Linked DNA regions of Homo sapiens: region 1 is linked to region 2. The links come from fine-mapping of genetic effects on gene expression. A gene starts in region 2. The other region holds a variant in brackets. All regions are shown on one strand. Distances are between the middles of the regions. Region 1 has its middle 20 kb from the start of THAP1. Region 2 holds the start of FNTA (farnesyltransferase, CAAX box, subunit alpha).

Region 1 (9,410 bases), 230 kb after region 2:
CTGAGGCGGATAGATCACCTGAGGTCAGGAGTTTCAGACTAGCCTGGCCAACATGGTGAAACCCATCTCTACTAAAAATACAAAAATTAGCCGGGCATGGCGGCAGTCGCCTGTAACCCCAGCTACTAGGGAGGCTGAGGCAGGAGAATTGCTTGAACCCGGGAGGTGGAAGTTGCAGTGAGCCAAGATTGTTCTATTGCACTCCAGCCTGGGCAACAAGAGTAAAACTCCGTCTCAAAAATAAAAACAAGACCCAAGACCCAACTACATGCTACCTGTAGGAGACTCATGTTAGGTCCAAAGACACAAACAGGTTAAAAGTGAAAGGATGGAAAAAGATATTTCATGCAAATAGTAATCAAGATGAGCTGGGGTGGCTGTATTAACAGAAGATAAAATAGACTTTAAATAAAAAAGTTACAAGAGACAAAGCAGGTATTATATATTAATTAAAAAGTTTAATACACCAAAAGACATAGCAATCGTAAACATTTTTGCACCTAATAACAGACCACCAAAGTATATGATACAAAAATTGGCAGAATTAAAAGGAGAAACAGACTGATCTACAAAAATGAAGATTAAGTAGAAACATTCTCAGAAAAAGAAAAATAGAATCTGTTGTTAGCCAACCCACCTTAAAATAAATACTAGAGGAAGCTCTTCAGGCTGAAAGCAAGTGACACCTAACAGTAATTCAAAAAAGCAAAGATTGCCAGTAAAGATAATTATGTAGGCTGGGCAGGGTGGCTCACGCCTGTAATCCCACCACTTTGGGAGGCCGAGGCGGGCGGATCATGAGGTCAGAAGATCGAGACCATCCTGGCTAACACGGTGAAACCCCGTCTCTACTAAAAATACAAAAAAATTAGCCGGGCGTGGTGGCGGGCGCCTATAGTCCCAGCTACTCGGGAGGCTGAGGCAGAAGAATGGCGTGAACCCGGGAGGCGGAGCTTGCAGTGAGCGGAGATTGCACCACTGCACTCCAGCCTGGGCGACAGAGCGAGACTCTGTCTCAAAAAAAAAAAAAAAAAAAGATAATTATGTAAATAATTATGAAAGACACATAGCTGCATCTTTTTTCTTATTTAAAAGCAACTGCAAAAACTGTATATATAATTTTAGTGTTAGGCCTGTAACATAGAGAAATGTAATATGTTTGATAGTAAGAAGCAGATGAGAAGCAAGCTGTACTGAAATAAAGAAAGAACACCAGATGAGAACTTAAATCTATAGGAAGAAATGTGGAGAAACAAATAATAAATCAAAAATTAATTAAACTATAAATACATACTTGTGGCCCGGTGTGGTGGCTCACGCCCGTGATCCCAGCACTTTGGGAGGCCAAGGCGGGTGGATCACAAGGTCAGGAGTTTTGAGACCAGCCTGGCCAACATGGTGTAACCCCGTCTCTACTAAAATACAAAAAGTCAGCCGGGCGTGGTGGTGGGCGCCTGCAGTCCCAGCTACTCTGGAGGCTGAGGCAGGGGAATCACTTGAACCCAGGAGGCGGAGGTTGCAGTGAGTCAAGATTGCGTCACTGCACTCCAGCCTTGGTGACAGGACTAGACTCCGTCTCAAAAAAAAAAATTAAAAAATAAATACATACATACTTGCTCACCCTTTTTTTGAGCTTCCTCAGAAGACATAAAATTATTACAATAATTATAAAAATGCATTATTGGTTTGTAACATGTAGATGTAACATGTATATTAATAATAGTACAAAATGGGAGAAGAGGTAGTGGAACTATATACAGCAAAATATCACACTGGTAAGTTGAAGTAGATTATAATAAGATATATATGGTAAGCCCTATAGCAACCACTTAGAAAATAAGTCCAAAGTGTAGTGAAGAAAATCATTAAAATAATTAAAATATTAAACTAGAAATGTTTACTTAATGTAAAAGAAAGCAGTGAAGGAAGACTAGAGAAATAAGACATGAGACTAAAAGGCAAAATGGCAGATGTAAATCCAGCTATACCAATAATAGCATCTAATGTGAACTGATCTAATCAAAGGGCAGAGACTGTCAGACTGGATATTGAAAAACGAGCTCCAATTATATGCTGTCTGCAGGAGACACACTTTAGCCTTATGATAAAAATAGGTTGAAAGCTAAAGGATGGAAATGACATACTATGCAAACAACAACTAAAACAGATGTGAAGTGGGTATGGCAATATCAGGCAAAATAGGCTTTTAAAAATGTTATTAGAGGCCGAGCACAGTGGCTCACGCCTGTAATCCCAGCACTTTAGGAGGCCGAGGTGGGTGGATCACTTGAGGTCAGGAGTTCAAGGCCAGCCTGGCCAACATGGTGAAACCCTGTCTCTACTAAAAATACAAAAATTAGCTGGGCATGATGGTACGTGCCTGTAGTTCCAGCTACTTGGGAGGCTGAGGCAGAAGAAATGCTTGAACCCGGGAGGCAGAGGTTGCAGTGAGACGAGATCATGCCACTGCACTCCAGCCTGGGCAACAGAGTGAGATTTTGTCTCCAAAAAAAAAAAAAAGAGTAAACAAGCAAGAAACGTGGAAGAGCATGTTTTCTCATACAGGTAGTTCTAAATTTTGAGACTCCGCCTTAAAACAAAACCAAATAAAATAAATAAATAAATGTTATTCGATATAAAGGGAATTTTGTAATGTTACCAGAGTCAATCTATCAGGAAGATATAAGAATTATAAGCACATATGCAACTAACAATAGAGCCCTGAAATACATGAAGCAAAAGCTCACAGAAATGAAGGGAGAATTCAACAAAAATTGAACAACAGCTGAAGACATCAGTACTCCACCTTCAATATTAGATATAACAACTAAGCAGGAGATCAATAATGATAGAGAAAACTTTAACTGTGCTATAAACAAAATGGATCTAGCCAACTTCTATAGAATATTGCACCCAACCATAGAGAATATATATATTTTTCAAGTCACATGGAGCATTCTCCAGGATAGACCACATACTGGGTCATAAAACAAATCTCAGTAAGTTTGTTTTTTTTTTGAGACAGAGTCTTGCTCTGTCGCCCAGGCTGGAGTGCAGTGGCTCAATCTCAGCTCACTGCAAGCTCCACCTCCTGGGTTCACGCCATTCTCCTGCCTCAGCCTCCCAAGTAGCTGGGACTACAGGTGCCCACCACAACGCCCGGCTAATTTTTTATATTTTTAGTAGAGACAGGGTTTCACCGTGTTAGCCAGGATGGTCTGGATCTCCTGACCTCATGATCCGCCCATCTCAGCCTCCGAAAGTGCTGGGATTACAGGCGTGAGCCATCGCTCCCGGCAAATCTCACTAAGTTTTAAAGTATTAAATCATATAATTCAGGGGTCCCCAACCCCAGGGCCACAGATGGATACCAGTCTGTGGCCTGTTAGGAACCAAGCCACACAGCAGGAGGTGAGTGGTGAAGCGAGCAAGCATTACTCCCTGAGATCCACCTCCTGTTAGATCAGTGGGGACATTAGATTCTCATAGAGGCATGAACCCTGTTGTGAACTGTGCATG[T/C]GACGGATTTAGGGTCCATGCTTTTTATGAGAATCTACCTAATGCCTGATGATCTGAGGTGGAACAGTTTCATCCCGAAACCATCCCCCACTCCCAGTCCATGGAGAAATTGTCTTCCAAGAAACTGGTCCATGGTGCCAAAAGGTTAGGGGCTGCTGACATAATGTATATTCTCTGACCACAATGGAATAAAATGAGAAATCAATAACGATAAATTAGATAAACTCACAAGAAAGTGGAAATTTTAAAACACGTTTAAACAACCAATGGGTCAAAGAAGAAGTCACAAGAGAAATAAGAAAATACTTTGCCATAGATAAAAATGAAGACACAAAATACTAAAACTTCTGGTATGCAGCTAAAGCAGTGCTTTGAGGGAAATTTGTAGCTGTAAACACCTATATTTTTAAAAAGAAGAAAGATCTCAATAACCTTAAGACACAGAAAAAAGAAGAACAAACTCCTTTTAAGGTGAAGGATGAAGTTGTTGCTTCTGATCCTTCCTACAACCAAGAATGAGGCACAATGCCTAGTTGGCCTATTTAGATTTTTGGAGGCAACATATTCCTCATTTGGGTGTGTTATGTTGGGTCATTCACGAGTGATCCAAAAATCTGCTAGTTTTGAGTAGTATCCAGAATAGGAGAAAGCTCTGCAACAGGTCCTGGCTGTTGTGCCAGCTTTGCCACTTGGGCCATATGATCCAGTGGATCTAATGGTGCGTGTGGTGTCTGTGCCATATAGGGATGCCGTCTGGAGACTTTGGCAGGACCCCATAGGTGAATCACAGTGCAGGCCTTTAAGACTTTGGAGCAGGGCCCTGCCATCATCCACAGATAAATACTCTCGTTTTGAGAGACAGCTCTTGACCTGCTAATGGGCTTTAGTAGAAACTGAATGTTTGACCATAGGCCGCCAAGTTACCATGCAACCTGAGCTGCCTATTATAAACTGGATGTCATCTGACCCACTAAACCATAAAGTTGGGCATGCATAGAAGAACTTCATTATCAAATGGAAGTAGTATAAACATGATTGGGCCCAAGCACGTCCTAAAGGCACAAGTAAGTTATATGAAGAAGTGACCCCAATGGTTCCTATTTCCAGTTCCTATTTCTGCTACACTGCCTTCTCTCTCCCAGCCTGGGCATTTGGCCTCAAGGGAAGTACCCTATGATCTTTTGACAAAGGAAGGAGAAGACGTGCACCCGGTTTATGGTTCTGTGTGATATTCAAGTACTAGCTCCCAAGTAATTGGGATTACAGGCACCCACCACGACGCCCGGCTAATTTTTGTATTTTTAGTAGAGAAGGGATTTCACCATGTTGGCCAGGCTAGTCTCAAACTCCTGACCTCAGGAGATCTGCCCACCATGGCCTCCCAAAATGCTGGGATTACAGGCATGAGCCACTGTGTCTGGCCCATAAACTTTCTTAAAACTTTTTTTTAAAGCTTATCAGCTATCATTAGTGTTAGTGTATTTTATTTGTGGCCCAATACAATTCTTCTTCCAATGTGCCCCAGGGAAGCCAAAAGATTGGACACCTTGTGCTAGATATATATGGTGAAGAAAACCATGCTTATCATATATGGCAGCATTCTTTATAAAAGCAAACAATCTGGAAAACCAGGGCTTAACTAGGGTTTCAGACTCTTAAGAATAAGAAATGGTTACACATTTCTAATATGCCGAATTCCAGCTTTCCCTGAGGAAGTATTTTAAATACTAGAAGCAATTTGGAAATGACTTTGTGAACTTATTTGCACAAATTTCAGGACATGTGGAAAGTTTACAAATATTTGTGCAAAGTTGAGTAACATTTAAGAGCCTGATCTCCAAACACTCACCATTTCTTGGTGTCATTTTCTACCAAAACTTCTGTTGGGGCCCTTTCATCTAAAAGCTGCTCTGCTGGCAGATGAATTATGCATCTGGGGACAGAGAACTGGATTTTCTGTTCTGTACTAACTCCTCAGGGAAGTTTTCCAAGGTTGAGCTGCAAGCTGTACACCCTTGAACTTGCTTCTAATTCTTTGCAGAATAGGCTCACAGCTATGAAAAAACATGAGTTTAGTTCATTCATAAATGGACACACACAAAACCTGGGGCAAAGAATTGCCCTTCCCCATCTTCAATGCACTGAAAACTTAGTCTACATTTTTAGATCATGTCTAGAAAATGTCAATGTCAAAAAAAATTCCTCATTCACAAAGATGTTCTAGAGGCTAAAACACATGGATGACAAATTCAAATTTTAATATATACATCATCTTTTTTTTTTTTTTTTTGAGATGGAGTCTCGCTCTGTCGCCCAGGCTGGAGTGCGGTGGCGCGATCTCAGCTCACTGCAAGTTCCACCTCCCGGGTTCATGCCATTCTCCTGCCTCAGCTTCCTGAGTAGCTGGGACTACAGGCACCTGACACCATAGCAGGCTAATTTTTTGTATTTTAAGTAGAGACAGGGTTTCACCATGTTAGCCAGGATGCTCTCGATCTCCTGACCTCGTGATCCGCCCGCCTCGGCCTCCCAAAGTGCTGGGATTACAGGTGTGATCCACCGTGCCTGGCCTACATCATCTTTTTTTTTTTTTTGCTACTCCCCACCCTGTCACCTGCTTCTCCCCACTGTCTTCCCATCCTCTTCTCCCCACCATCTCCTTTTCATTCTTCTCCCCAAGGCTGTCTTTCCAGCCCCTCTGCATGCCCCTTTTCCCCACCCTCTCTCTCCACTATTTTCTCCCAGCCCCTTCTCCCCCAACAACCTGGTTTTTTGTTTTGTTTTGTTTTCCTGAAACAGAGTCTCACTCTGTCGCCCAGGCTGGAGTGCAATGGCATGATCTCAGCTCACTGCAACCTCTGCCTCCCGGGTTCAGGCGATTCTCCTGCCTCAGCCTCCCGAGTAGCTGGGATTACAGGCATGCACCACCATGCCTGGCTAAATTTTTTTGTATTTTTACTAGAGACAGGGTTTCACTATATTGTCCAGGCTGATCTCAAACTCCTGAGCTCAGAAAATCCACCCGCCTCGGCCTCCCAAACTGCTAGGATTACAGGCATGAGCCACTGCACCCGACCGTTTTTTTTTAAAGCTATTATTACTCTTTCTTTGTTTCTTTGGTTTTTTTTTTTTGAGACGGAATTTCAGTCTTGTTGCCCAGGCTGGAGTGCAATGGTGCAATCTCAGCTCACTGCAACCTCCACCTCCTGGGTTCAAGCGATTCTCCTGCCTCAGCCTCCCGAGTAGGTGGGACTACAGCCGTACACTACCATGCCCAGCTAATTTTTGTATTTTTAGTAGAGATGGTGTTTTGCCATGTTGGCCAGGCTGGTCTCAAACTTCTGACCTCAGTTGATCTACCCACCTCGGCCTCTCAAAGTGCTGGGATTACAGGCGTGAGCCACTGCACCTGGCCTCTTTTTTTTCTTAAATACAGTTTTCCTTCCATTTAAAAATACAAGTACAAATTTTTACCTATTAAACTTCATGTTTCAGCTTCTTAATTAAAACATGTTAGTCTGAAACAAGCTGATTAACAAATGGGCAAAGGACTTGAGTAGACATTTCTTCAAAGAGGATAAACAAATGGCCAATAAGCAAATGAAAAGATGCTCAATATCACTAATCATAAGGGAAACACAAACCAAAACCACAATGAAACACCACCTCTCACCCATTAGGATGCCTGCTATCAAAAAATAGAAAATAATACATGTTGGCAAGGATGTAGAGAAATTGGAGCCCCCGTGCACTGCTGTAGAAAACAATAGGGCAGTGCCTCAGAACATTAAACACAGAATTACCCTTTGATAGAATCCAGCAAGTTCCCTTCTGAGTACAGAAAAGAATAAAAAACAGACTCGGCCAGGCGCAGTGGCTCAGGCCTGTAATCCCAACACTTTGGGAGGCAGAAGTGGGTGGATCACCTGAGGTCAGGAGTTTGAGACCAGCCTGACTAACATGGCGAAACCCCATCTCTACTAAAAAAAAAAAATTACAAAATTAGCCAGGTGTGGTGGTGCGTGCCAGTAATCCCAGCTACTAGGGAGGCTGAGGTAGGAGAATTGCTTGAACCAGGGAGGCAGAGGTTGCAGTGAGCTGAGATTGAGCCATTGCACTACAGCCTGGGCAACAAGAGTGAAACTCTGTCTTAAAAACAAACAAAAACAAACAAACAAAAAAGACTGAGACTCAAAGATATATTTATACACCCATGTTCATAGCAGCAGTATTCACAATAATCAAAAGGCAGAAGCAACCCAAGTGTTCATCAACAGATGAATGGATTATTCAGCCTTAAAAAGAAGGAAATTCTGACAAATGCTGCAACACAGACGAACCTTGAGAACGTTACGCTAAGTGAAATAAACCAGCCTCAAAAAGAAAAGCTGAGGGCAGGCAGAGCGCGGTGGCTTATGCCTGTAATCCCAGCCCTTTGGGAGGCCAAAGCGGGCGGATCAGGAGGCAAGGAGATCAAGACCATCCTGGCTAACATGGTGAAACCCTGTCTCTACTAAAAATACAAAAAAGCCGGGCGCGGTGGCGGGGGCCTGTGGTCCCAGCTACTGGGGAGGCTGGCAGGACAATGGCGCGAACCTGGGAGGCGGAGCTTGCAGTGAGCCGAGATCAGCCACTGCACTCCAGCCTGGGGGACAGAGCGAGACTCTGTCTCCAAAAAAAAAAAAAAAAAAAAGAAAGAAAGAAAAGCTGAAGGCAGACTTTGGCCCTTTATAAGGAGAAATATTTAAATAATTAGACTTGTCCAAGAGTGTCATGGATCGCGTTGTGAAGTAATGAGTTTGCCATCCCTGGGCATAATAAAGAAAATCTTACATGATCATTGGTTTGCGACATTGTGGAAGGAATTCCTGGCTTGAGAGGAAAGCTGTTTATGCTAAAACAAGGTGGTGGGTAAGCGGGGGAGGGGGGAGCGGGGGCGGGGCTTGTCTTGAAAGAATCAGTCACTTTATATATATATATAATCAAAATAAATATTTTATATATATAATAAAAATAAATTATATAGTTTCAAATAAACAGAAGGAGGGTATTGAAACTTCCCAATACAAAGATGTGATAAAGGTTTGAGATGAAGGATATGCTAATTACCCTGATCTGATCACTAAAGATTCTGTGTACCAAAACATCACCAGCCAGGCGCGGTGGCTCATGCCTGTAATCCCAGCACTATGGGAGGCTGAGGCAGGTGGATCACGAGGTCAGGAGATCGAGGCCATCCTGGCTAACACAGTGAAACCTGTCTCCACTAAAAATATAAAAAAATCTTTGCCGGGCATGGTGGCACATGCCTGTAGTGCCAGCTACTCAGGAGGCTGAGGCAGGAGAATTGCTTGAACCCGGGAGGCGGAGGTTGCAGTGAACCAAGTTTGCGCCACTGCACCCCAGCCTGAGCAACAGAGTGAGACTCTGTCTCAAAAAAAAATTAATTAAAGATAAATAAAGGTATGACTAAATAAAACAAAATACAGCAAAATAAAATAAAACAAAACAAGGCTGGGTGAGGTGGCTCAGGCCTGTGGTCCCAGCTACTTGGGAGGCTGAGGTGGAAGGATCACCTGAGCCCGGGAGGTCAAGACTGCAGCGAGCTATGATGGTGCCACTGCACTCCAGCCTGGGTGACAGAGTAAGACCCCGTCTCAAAAAATAAAATAAAATAAAATAAAATAAAAGAGAGAACAAAACAAAATAAAATAAAAATAAATTGCCTAAGGGGCTTTAAAACTTCTCCCCATTCAGAGTATGTGTTTTTGTTTTTGTTTTTGTTTTTGTTTTGAGACAGAGTCTAGCTCTGTCGCCCAGGCTGGAGGGCAGTGACGCGATCTTGGCTCACTGCAACCTCTGACTCCCGGGTTCAAGAGATTCTCCTGCCT
Region 2 (9,410 bases):
GACTTTTTTAACTCAACATTGTTTCTGAGATCTGTTCATGTTATAATAGATCTAAATCCTCTTAACGGTTATATAGTATTAACTGTATGACAATGATACATTTTATTTTATCCATTTCTCCAAAAGATAGACATATAGCTTCCAATATCTTGCTTTTTCAAAAAATGCTGCAAATTATAGTAGCTAACATATATAGTGCTTACTATGAGCCAGACAGTATTCTACTATTTTATGTAAATAATTTACTACATCTATAGTTACTACCAAGATCCTCATTTTACACAGGTGGAAACAGAGGCACATAGGAGTTAAATAACTTGTCCAAGATTACACAGTCAGTAAAATGTGAAGTTAGAATTTGAACCAGATGGTCTGGCTCCAAAGTCTGTGCTTTTAACCTCCTGTGCATATCTTCTCATGCCATGTGCCAGAATGAACCCAATATTAAATTAGAAGCAACACACTGCTAGGTTGTAAGATAAGTGCATTTTCCAGTTTTAACAGATATACCAAACTACTTTCCAAAATGGCTAAACATTCGAAAAATCCCATATGAAATGTATGGAGCTCTTCATATATCTTAATACCTAATATAATATCAAGACAGTTTTCATTTCTGCCACTTAAATCATGGGTGGAAAATGGAATTCTCATTTTAACCTGTCATTCTTAATGATAAAGGATTCTTCCTATTTTATTGGCCAATGGGATTTTCTTTTCTGTGAATTGCCAGTTCATACCCTTTGTCCATTTTTTGATTAAACTCTCTGTCTCCTTATCCTGTTGTAAAAACGTCTCAGTTTTAATATGGATCCTGTTTAAATGACATACCTTCTTCCACACTGCTGCTTGCTTTTTAACTTGCTCATGGTTTCTTCTGCTGTGTAAGTTTTAAATTGATATATTTGTCTATAAACGGTTGACAGGTCAAACTTATCTTTTCCTTTAGGGTTTCTAACCATGGTGTATGTAAGAATTCACAAAGTTAATTTTTTTTTTTTTTTTTTGAGACAGAGTTTTGCTCTTGTCGTCCAGACTACAGTGCAATGGCGTGATCGTGGCTCACTGCAACCTCCACCTCTCAGGTTCAAGCAATTCTCCTGCCTCAGCCTCCTGAGTAGCTGGGATTACAGGCGCCTGCCACCACGCCCAGCTAATTTTTGTATTTTTAGTAGAGACAGGGTTTCGCCACGTTGGCCAGGCTAGTCTCAAACTCCTAACCTTAGGTGATCTGCCCACCTCAGCCTCCCAAAGTACTGGGATTACAGGCGTGAGCCACCGCGCCTGGCCCAAAATGTTAATTTTATACCTTGCAAAAAGGTTAATTTATCCTCAATGGAAACATATGATTATATTAGTTTCCCCCAACATCTCTGTTATAAGTACTTATGAATCTGAATAAGTTATGGTTTATATTTCTCTGATCACTAGTAAGGTTAATATCTCTTCATAGATATTTCTATTTTGTGAATTGTCTCTTCATATATACTATCTCTCAAAGTATGAGAGTTTTGCATTTCCGTGCAGTTATATATTCTGACCTTCTCCTTAATCGATTCTGAGGTTTACATCTTGCCTAATACGTTCTCCATCCTAAGAATGATAGGGATACAACTCTGCTTTTATCTAAGTGCACAGCCAACTGTTCCAACCATTATTTGATTAATCCACCCTTTTCATAAAGGTATAAAATGTCCTTTTTATCACATATTAAGCTTTCATAGAGTGAGGATCTATTTCTCGAGTCTTTACAAATCTACTTCTGTGCTACTTCCACTTAATCATTAAGTTTAGTAATATATCTGCACACTTAATACGGCAAACCTATCATTATGCTTTTTTAAACATTTATTGTCATTTTATTAGCAGAAAAAAAATGCTTTTGTAAAAGAATGATCTTAGAAAAGCCTTAACTGAAAGAAATATATATACATAAAATTACAAAACTATCATTCCATTTTATTCATTTTCCCTTTCCTAGAAGAACTAACAATTAACATTTCCACGACCTTCAATTTACACTTTCACATTCATTACAAAAGAATATTTTGTCAAAGAAAAAAATCCACTCATTTTAATATCAATAAATGTATTCCAACTGAGCTGAACACTTCACTGCCAAAATATATGTTTAAATCCTGATGTTTCAGCAACCAAAGTTTATTCTAAAAACAGTAACTCATTTATATTGTGTGGTACATGCATAATCTCCCTGGCGGTGGAGTCTCCAGCAAAGAAAAGAAAACCACAATCACATAGTAGCTATTATCTACTATACTGTAACGTTTATTATTTAGAATATGTCCAGTCTTTGGGCAAAATAAAACTTTTAATCATAAAGCTAAATCACACACACACATAAAAAAAACACAAAATTAACTCATCTTAAGTCATTCAGATTTTTATTAGACAGAAATTTGTCATCTATCTTGCTACATAGTTGTGAATTCCAATTCTGCTACTATATTTAACTTACAGACCTTTTCCTAATATAAACAAACTTACATTTGTCACTATAAATGATCTGGACCACGGGATTGGGGCCATCATTCTGCGGCACCGGATCTATATCAGCCCATTCTGCTCTGTCCCTGAAAACAGACATTCCCCAACCAGTGGTTACATTCAAATACAGAAGAAAAGGGACTCTAGTGTTTTTAAAATGACAATAATTACAGTTACATTGATATTAATAACTTACAGGGCTCATAATGTAATCATGGTTGGATTCTTCATGACCAAGTTTTGCCAATATGTTTTACACATTAAACTATTAAAGTAAAATTAAAACAAATAACCCTCAGATGCTGAAAAGCTAATCAACAGTTTTCAAATTTAAAGTTTTATAAGTAGAAAAATAAGTTTTTGCAGCAAGTAGACAGTACTTTTTTTTATTTTATTTTTTTGAGACGGAATCTCACTCTGTCGCCCAGGCTGGAGTGCAGTGGTGTCATCTCGGCTCACTGCAACCTCTGCCTCCTGGGTTCAACCAATTCTTCTGCCTCAGCCTCCCGAGTAGCTGGGACTAAGGACTACAGGCGGGCGCCACCAAGCCCAGCTAATTTTTGTATTTTTAGTAGAGATGGGGTTTCACCATGTTGGCCAGGATGGTCTCAATCTCTTGACCTGGTGATCCGCCCGCCTCGGCCTCCCAAAGTGCTGGCATTACAGGTGTGAGCCACCGCTCCCTGCCTCACAGTATTTTTAACTTAGAAATCAATCTAACTCATTGGTCTAGTAAGATTCTTTGAGTCAGTCAGCATTTTTAAAACGTTTGAGTAACAAAATACTAGGAATTGACATTTTAAGATAAAAATAAGTACTATTAATTTACTCAAGAGGTGGCGCAGGTGATCATTAATAAGACAGGCTCTGGAATCTGACAACTGCCTAAGTCGTAACATTGGCTGGAGCACTTAATAGCTGTGTGACCTTCAGAAAGTTACTTATTGGGGCCTCAGTTTCACCATTTATAAAATCAGGGCAGTATTATTACCTACCAACCTTAGAAGGGTATTTGGAGGATTAAATGAGATAAGCACTTAAAACATCCACAGCACACAGGCGGCATTCAATGACTACTTAATAAGCAATGCTAAAATAACTGTATAGTGACAACAGTGAGTGCTTACAGAAATTTCTGTGAACTACCTACCCAGTGTAACAAAATTTCTCTTAAACACTTTCACTTATATTCTTTTCCTTTCACTTTTTTTTTTTTTTTTTGAGATGGAGTCACGCTCTTGTCCAGGCTGTGGTGCAATGGGCGCAATCTCCGCTCATTGCAACCTCTGCCTCCTGGGTTAAAGCGATTCTCCTGCCTCAGCCTCCCGAGTAGCTGGAATTACAGGTGCCCGCCACCACGCCCGGCTAATTTTTGTATTTTTAGTAGAGACAGGGTTTCACCATGTTGGCCAGGTTAGTCTGGAACTCCTGACCTCAGGTGATCCGCCCGCCTCGGCCTCCCAAAGTGCTGGGATTACAGGCGTGAGCCACCGCGCCGGCCCTTCCTTTCACTTTTTATTTCTCTATAATGATCAGCTGTTGACAGCAGAGATTCTGTGGCATCCAATGCGCAATGCTAGTAATTGTGTCCATTATACAGGGAGAAATACAAGTGAAATCATGACCTAAGACGTGACACCTAGAGCCTGGGGGAGTGGCCTGGGAAAGGTAAGGCTGTATTTAGTCACCAGGAAATCACCCACAGTCACGTGAGAACCTGAGTATTTCACAATCCAGAGAGCAGACTTGAGGATTATGGGGCTACCAATTTAAATCAGTAAAACACTATCTCCAATCAAAAAAATATATATGGGTAGTGACTTCTACTCATTCACAAAATCAAGGTAAACAAGCCATCGAATGGATTTACCTAGAACTACAGAAGTAAGACCTAAGGCGATTATCTCTGCAGGTTCACAGGGAATTAGGAATCAACATTACCATCTGAAAGCAAAGAACTGATGGAACTGGGTGTCAGCAAAGACGGGGTGACAGAGGCAAGAAAGTTACCGCAGTCCCCAGTACACCTCACTTGTATTATGTACGAGGCGATGCAGGGAGACTTAAGAGAGGTTCAGTAGCAAATCTCTTTTCAGCCTTTAGCCTGGCTGATACGAGGCGCTAAAATACAGATTGGATGAAAATGTCTCTGGGCTCCAAGCAGAGCCAGCCACTGGAAGCCCTCACACTTCGTTTTTAGGGTGAGCAAATCTGGCCCTGGTTTCCTGCCCGGCTACCAGAACTGCACCCTAGCCCTTGGGTCTTCACTGGTTGTTAGCGACACAGCGTTCTGGGAAGCCGTGGAAGAGAGCGGGAAATTTCTTATATTTACGAATCGCGACGCCTGAACAGCTGAACGAGTGCAGTCAAGGGTGCAGCAGTTTCCGCGTGGCTTAAAGCAGGCGGAAAGCCGAGACCTCGCTGCTTCGCGTCCCCGCGGTCTCGCGCCGGCGCCGCCCTGGGAAGCGGCGACGTCCCGGCAGCCGCCCGGGCCCAGCGCCATGCACCGGCCCACGCGGCGCCACGGGAACTTCGGCCTGGCGCGCCGGGGCCGGAAGCGCGCGCCGCGGGTCTTGGGGCCGCTGGGCCTCCAGGGAGTGTCCCGAGCCGCGGCCGCCGCGGGGGCGTTACCTGTACAGGACATAGGAGGGCGAGTCCAGGCTCACAAACCCGTCGTCCATGGGGGACGCCACGGCTTCCCCAGCCTCGGCCGCCATCTCTTCCTTGTGCTGCTGCTGGGGCGGCGGTGGGTGCGGCTGGGGCGGGGGTTGCGCCGGCTGCCCGGGCTCGCCCCCTTGCGCAGCCTCCCCGACCCCCTCGGTGGCCGCCATCTCGCCTCGGTCCGCAGCTGAGGTGGTGGCGGAGGCCCCGCCCCTCCCTTCCCCCTCTCGAGGCCACTTCCTGTTTTCTGGGTTTCCTACCATAGAGGTGCGGGCCAGAGAGTCTTGGCGGGCTGCCGGGGTATGGGTGGGAGTGTGCGGGTGCTGGCTGCGGGTGCTGGCTGCGTCCGCCGCGAGTTTGCGCGGCTCTCCCGAGATCCCCCAGGCTCCCACGCGTCTTCCCATCTGTCGCCGTTCCCGAGCTTTGCCGATGCCATTCGGACCGTGTTAGTGCTGTTAGTGGCCCCAGCAGGGAGAGGGCGATTCCTTCTTTGGACGGAAGCTGCAACTGAGGGTGACTGGGGGACACTGAGCACTCAGCCCTTTGCGTCCATCTCAGCATTTTCAAAACGAAATATAAAGCCCGGGCGCGGTGATTAACGCCTGATCCCAGCCGCTCGGAGGCCGCGGCGGGAGGATCATGTGAGCCAGGGAGGTCGAGACCAGCCTGGGCAATCTAATGCGACCCCATCTCTACCAAAAATACAAAAATTAGCTGGGCATCATGTGGGTGCCTGTGGTTCCAGCTACTCGGAAGGCTGAAGTGGGAGGATCGCTTGAGCTGGGAGTTTGAGGCTGCAGTGAGCAGAAATCACCACTGCACTCCAGTCTGAGGGACAGAGATCCTGTCCCAAAACACACACACCATTAGAAAAAGAAAGTAATATTTGGTGAAGTTTTTGTTTGTATTTATATATGATCGGATATAATGGTGTAAACCAAAAAATAAAATTCTGAACCCAACACCAAACCATCTGAATAGACCCTTCCTCTCTGCCAAGGGCTTTCCAAAGTTAACCTGAAAAACTTGTTCAGGCCATGATGGAAGGAGGTGGGGGTGAGGGTGGGTCATTAACATCAAGGCCGACCTTAAGTCTGATGAGAAACATTTACAATCTATTCTTTCTGAAGCCTGTTACTTGGAGGCTTCATCTGCATAATAAAACTTTGGTCTCCACAACCCCTTATCACAACCTGGACATTCTATTGATAACAACTTAACCAATTGCTAATCAGAACATATTTAAATCGGCCTAGGACCCGGAAGCACCCCTCTCCCTACACTTTGAGTTGTCTTGTCCTTCCAAAGGAACCAATGTGTATCTTACATGTATTTGATTGATGTCTTATGCCTCCCGAAAATGTATAAAACCCCACTGTGCCCCAACCACCCTGGGCACATGTTCTCAGGATCTCTTAAGGGCTGTGTCACAGGCCATTAATCACTCATATTTGGCTCAGAATAAATCTCTTCAAATATTTTCCAGAGTTTGACTCTTTTCATTAACAATGGGTCATATGAATGTATGTTGTTGGGGCTCAGAAAAGAATATCCCAAATGAAGGTCTAAGCATCAGCTTCACAATCACAGTCTCTCTCTGACCTTCTCCTGCCCTCCTCTCTGTGGCCACTCATCCTCTCTGAAGCAAGCCACAGCAACTAGAATCTCTCTTCCCCCTGGCAGGTCATAGAAACCAGAACCCTTTTCCCCCAAAGCCAGCCGTGGCACCTGAAAATACTACTCTAACCTTCCTCCAGCCCTGCCTTTCTATGTGACAGCTGGCTGTAAAGAAACTAAACCCTAGTTCCAGAGGGCTCCTCTTCCACTGGGTGTTGCAGGGAGGAACAGTGAGGCCAAGGAAACCTGAACAGACAGGCCTTGTTGAATTTCTCCACTCCATATATTAGCATTAAATCATCCTCTTTTTGTTCAAATAGGGTATAGTATTAGGGCAGAAATAGCTACATCAAATAATGGGACACAGTAGAGAACTCACAAACAGATCCATGCATATGTGGATGCTTGAGACTAGACAAAGGCTTCATTGCAGAAGATTGAGAAAAGGACGGTGTTCTGAACAATGGTGCTGGGTCAATTGGGCACCCACAGAGGAAAAGAAATTGCATCCCTACGTTATACTACATAGACTTCAATGTGAAAGGCAAAACATAAAAGCTTAAGATTCTGCACAAAACAGAAAACCCAAAATGGCAAATAAATGCATGAAGAGATGATCAATCTCATTAGTAATCAAGAAAATGCAAATTAGAAATATCTTTATATACCATACACATCCACTACGTTGGCAAAAATGGAAAAGCTTAACAATTCCAAGTGGCTTTGGAAAATAGGTTGGCATTATGTAGGAAAGCTAAAGATACACATTGTTATCACCCAGTGCTATAGTTTGGATGTGTTTTGTCCCTACCAAAACTCATTCAGGGTTGAGAGGCAGGGCCTAGTGGGAGCTGTTTGGGTCATTCCTCATGAATAGATGAATGCCCTACCTCAAGGATAAGTGGGTTCTTGCTCTTGCAGAATAGATTAGCTGTCTTCCTTGGTTTCTCTCTCTTGCTTCCCCTCTTGCTATGTGATCTCCTTGCACATACTACTCCCCTTCCACTTTCCCCCCATGAGTTGAAGCAGCCTGAGGCCCTCACTAGATAAAGCTACCCAGTCTTGAACCTTTTGGCCTCCAGAATCATTAGTCAAATAAACCTCTTTTCTTTATAAATTACCAGCCTCAGGTATTCTATTATGGTAACACAAAACGACTAAGACACCCAGTAATGCTAAGATACATATATATATATATATATATATATATTTTTTTTTTTTTTTTTTTTTTTGAGACAGAGTCTCACACTGTTCCCCGGGCTGGAGTGCAATGGCATGGTCTCGGCTCACTGCAACCTCTGCTTCCCAGGTTCACGCGATTCTTCTGCCTCAGCCCTCAGCCTCCCGAGTAGCTGGGATTACAGGCACACACCACCACACCTGGTTAATTTTTTGTATTTTTAGTAGAGATGGGGTTTCACTATGTTGGCCAGACTGGTCTCGAACTCCTGACCTCATGATCCAGCTGCCTCGGCCTCCCAAAGTGCTGGGATTACAGACGTGAGCGACCGTGCCTGGCCAGATGTATATATATATATATATATATATTTTTTTTTTTTAAATGATGCACTCACATGCATCAGAACACAGAACAACAGTACTGGAAACACATTGTAATAGCCACAGACCAGAAACAACCAACATGCTCATCAAGAGTACAATGTGGTATAGTCATATAATGGAATACTATGCAAAAATGAAACATATGAACTAAAGGTCATACACTAATAAGTGTGGTTAAAAGAAAATCATGGCTGGGCACAGTGGCTCACATCTGTAATTACAGCACTTTAGGAGGACAAAGCAGGAGGATCACATGAGGCCAGGAGTTTGAGACTAGCCTGGGCAACATAGCCAGACCCCAACTCTAAAAAAATACAAAAATTAGTTGGACGTGGTGACATGTGCCTGTAATCCCAGGTACTCAGGAAGCTGAGGTGGGAGGATCACTTGAGCTCAGGAAGTCAAGGCTACAATGAGCCATGATCACACCACTGCACTCCAGCCTGGGCAACAGAGTGAGAGCCTGTCTCAAAAAAATATAAAAAAAGAAAAAGACGGCCAGGTGCGGTGGCTCACACCTGTAATCCCAGCACTCTGGGAGGCCAAGGCAGGCGGATCACCTGAGGTCAGGAGTTTGAGACCAGCCTGGCCAACATGGTGACACCCCGTGTCTACTAAAAATGCAAAAATTAGCTGGGCATGGTGGCAGGCACCTGTAATCCCAGCTTCTTGGGAGGCTGAGGTAGGAGAACTGCTTGAACCCAGGAGATGGAGGAGGTTGCAGTGAGCCGAGATCATGCCACTGCACTCCAACCTGGGCGACAGAGCGAGACTCTATCTCAAAAAAAAGAAAAACACTTGTTTCCTCTACTCACAACACTTCTGACACCAAATATGTGAGGTTTTCCTTCACATTAAGCAATCATCCAACCCTACTGACACCAGATGGGTAAACTACAATTCGGTTATGACACTAACTACCCTGAGCTAGTGGAGACCCCACAGGTTAAGGGCTCTGTCCCACAAGACTGCTCTCCCACTTCAGATGCCAGTCACAAGTCCCAGGTTATCACCTGAACTTCTAACAAACTGGCTATAAATCAGGGGTTCCTGCAACCCCACAT

The links. PIP is the estimated chance that this variant, and not a neighbour inherited with it, causes the effect. A credible set is the group of variants that fine-mapping cannot tell apart.
Region 1: its variant is the best candidate, but not a certain one, in a credible set for the expression of FNTA in whole blood (TOPMed, PIP 0.60).

Annotation. Positions count from the first base shown.
Region 1 is chr8:42,818,411-42,827,820 of GRCh38, reverse strand. No RefSeq gene overlaps it. Among named protein-coding and RNA genes, the nearest start is that of THAP1, 20 kb to the left of the region's middle. The variant T/C (reference allele first, on the strand shown) is at 3,520.
Region 2 is chr8:43,052,273-43,061,682 of GRCh38, reverse strand. It overlaps FNTA (farnesyltransferase, CAAX box, subunit alpha), which reads right to left and starts at 5,360. Exons shown (of 9, transcript NM_002027.3): 1 at 5,137-5,360; 2 at 2,506-2,591. The coding sequence starts at 5,336. RefSeq lists a silencer at 4,842-5,411 and an enhancer at 5,542-5,731.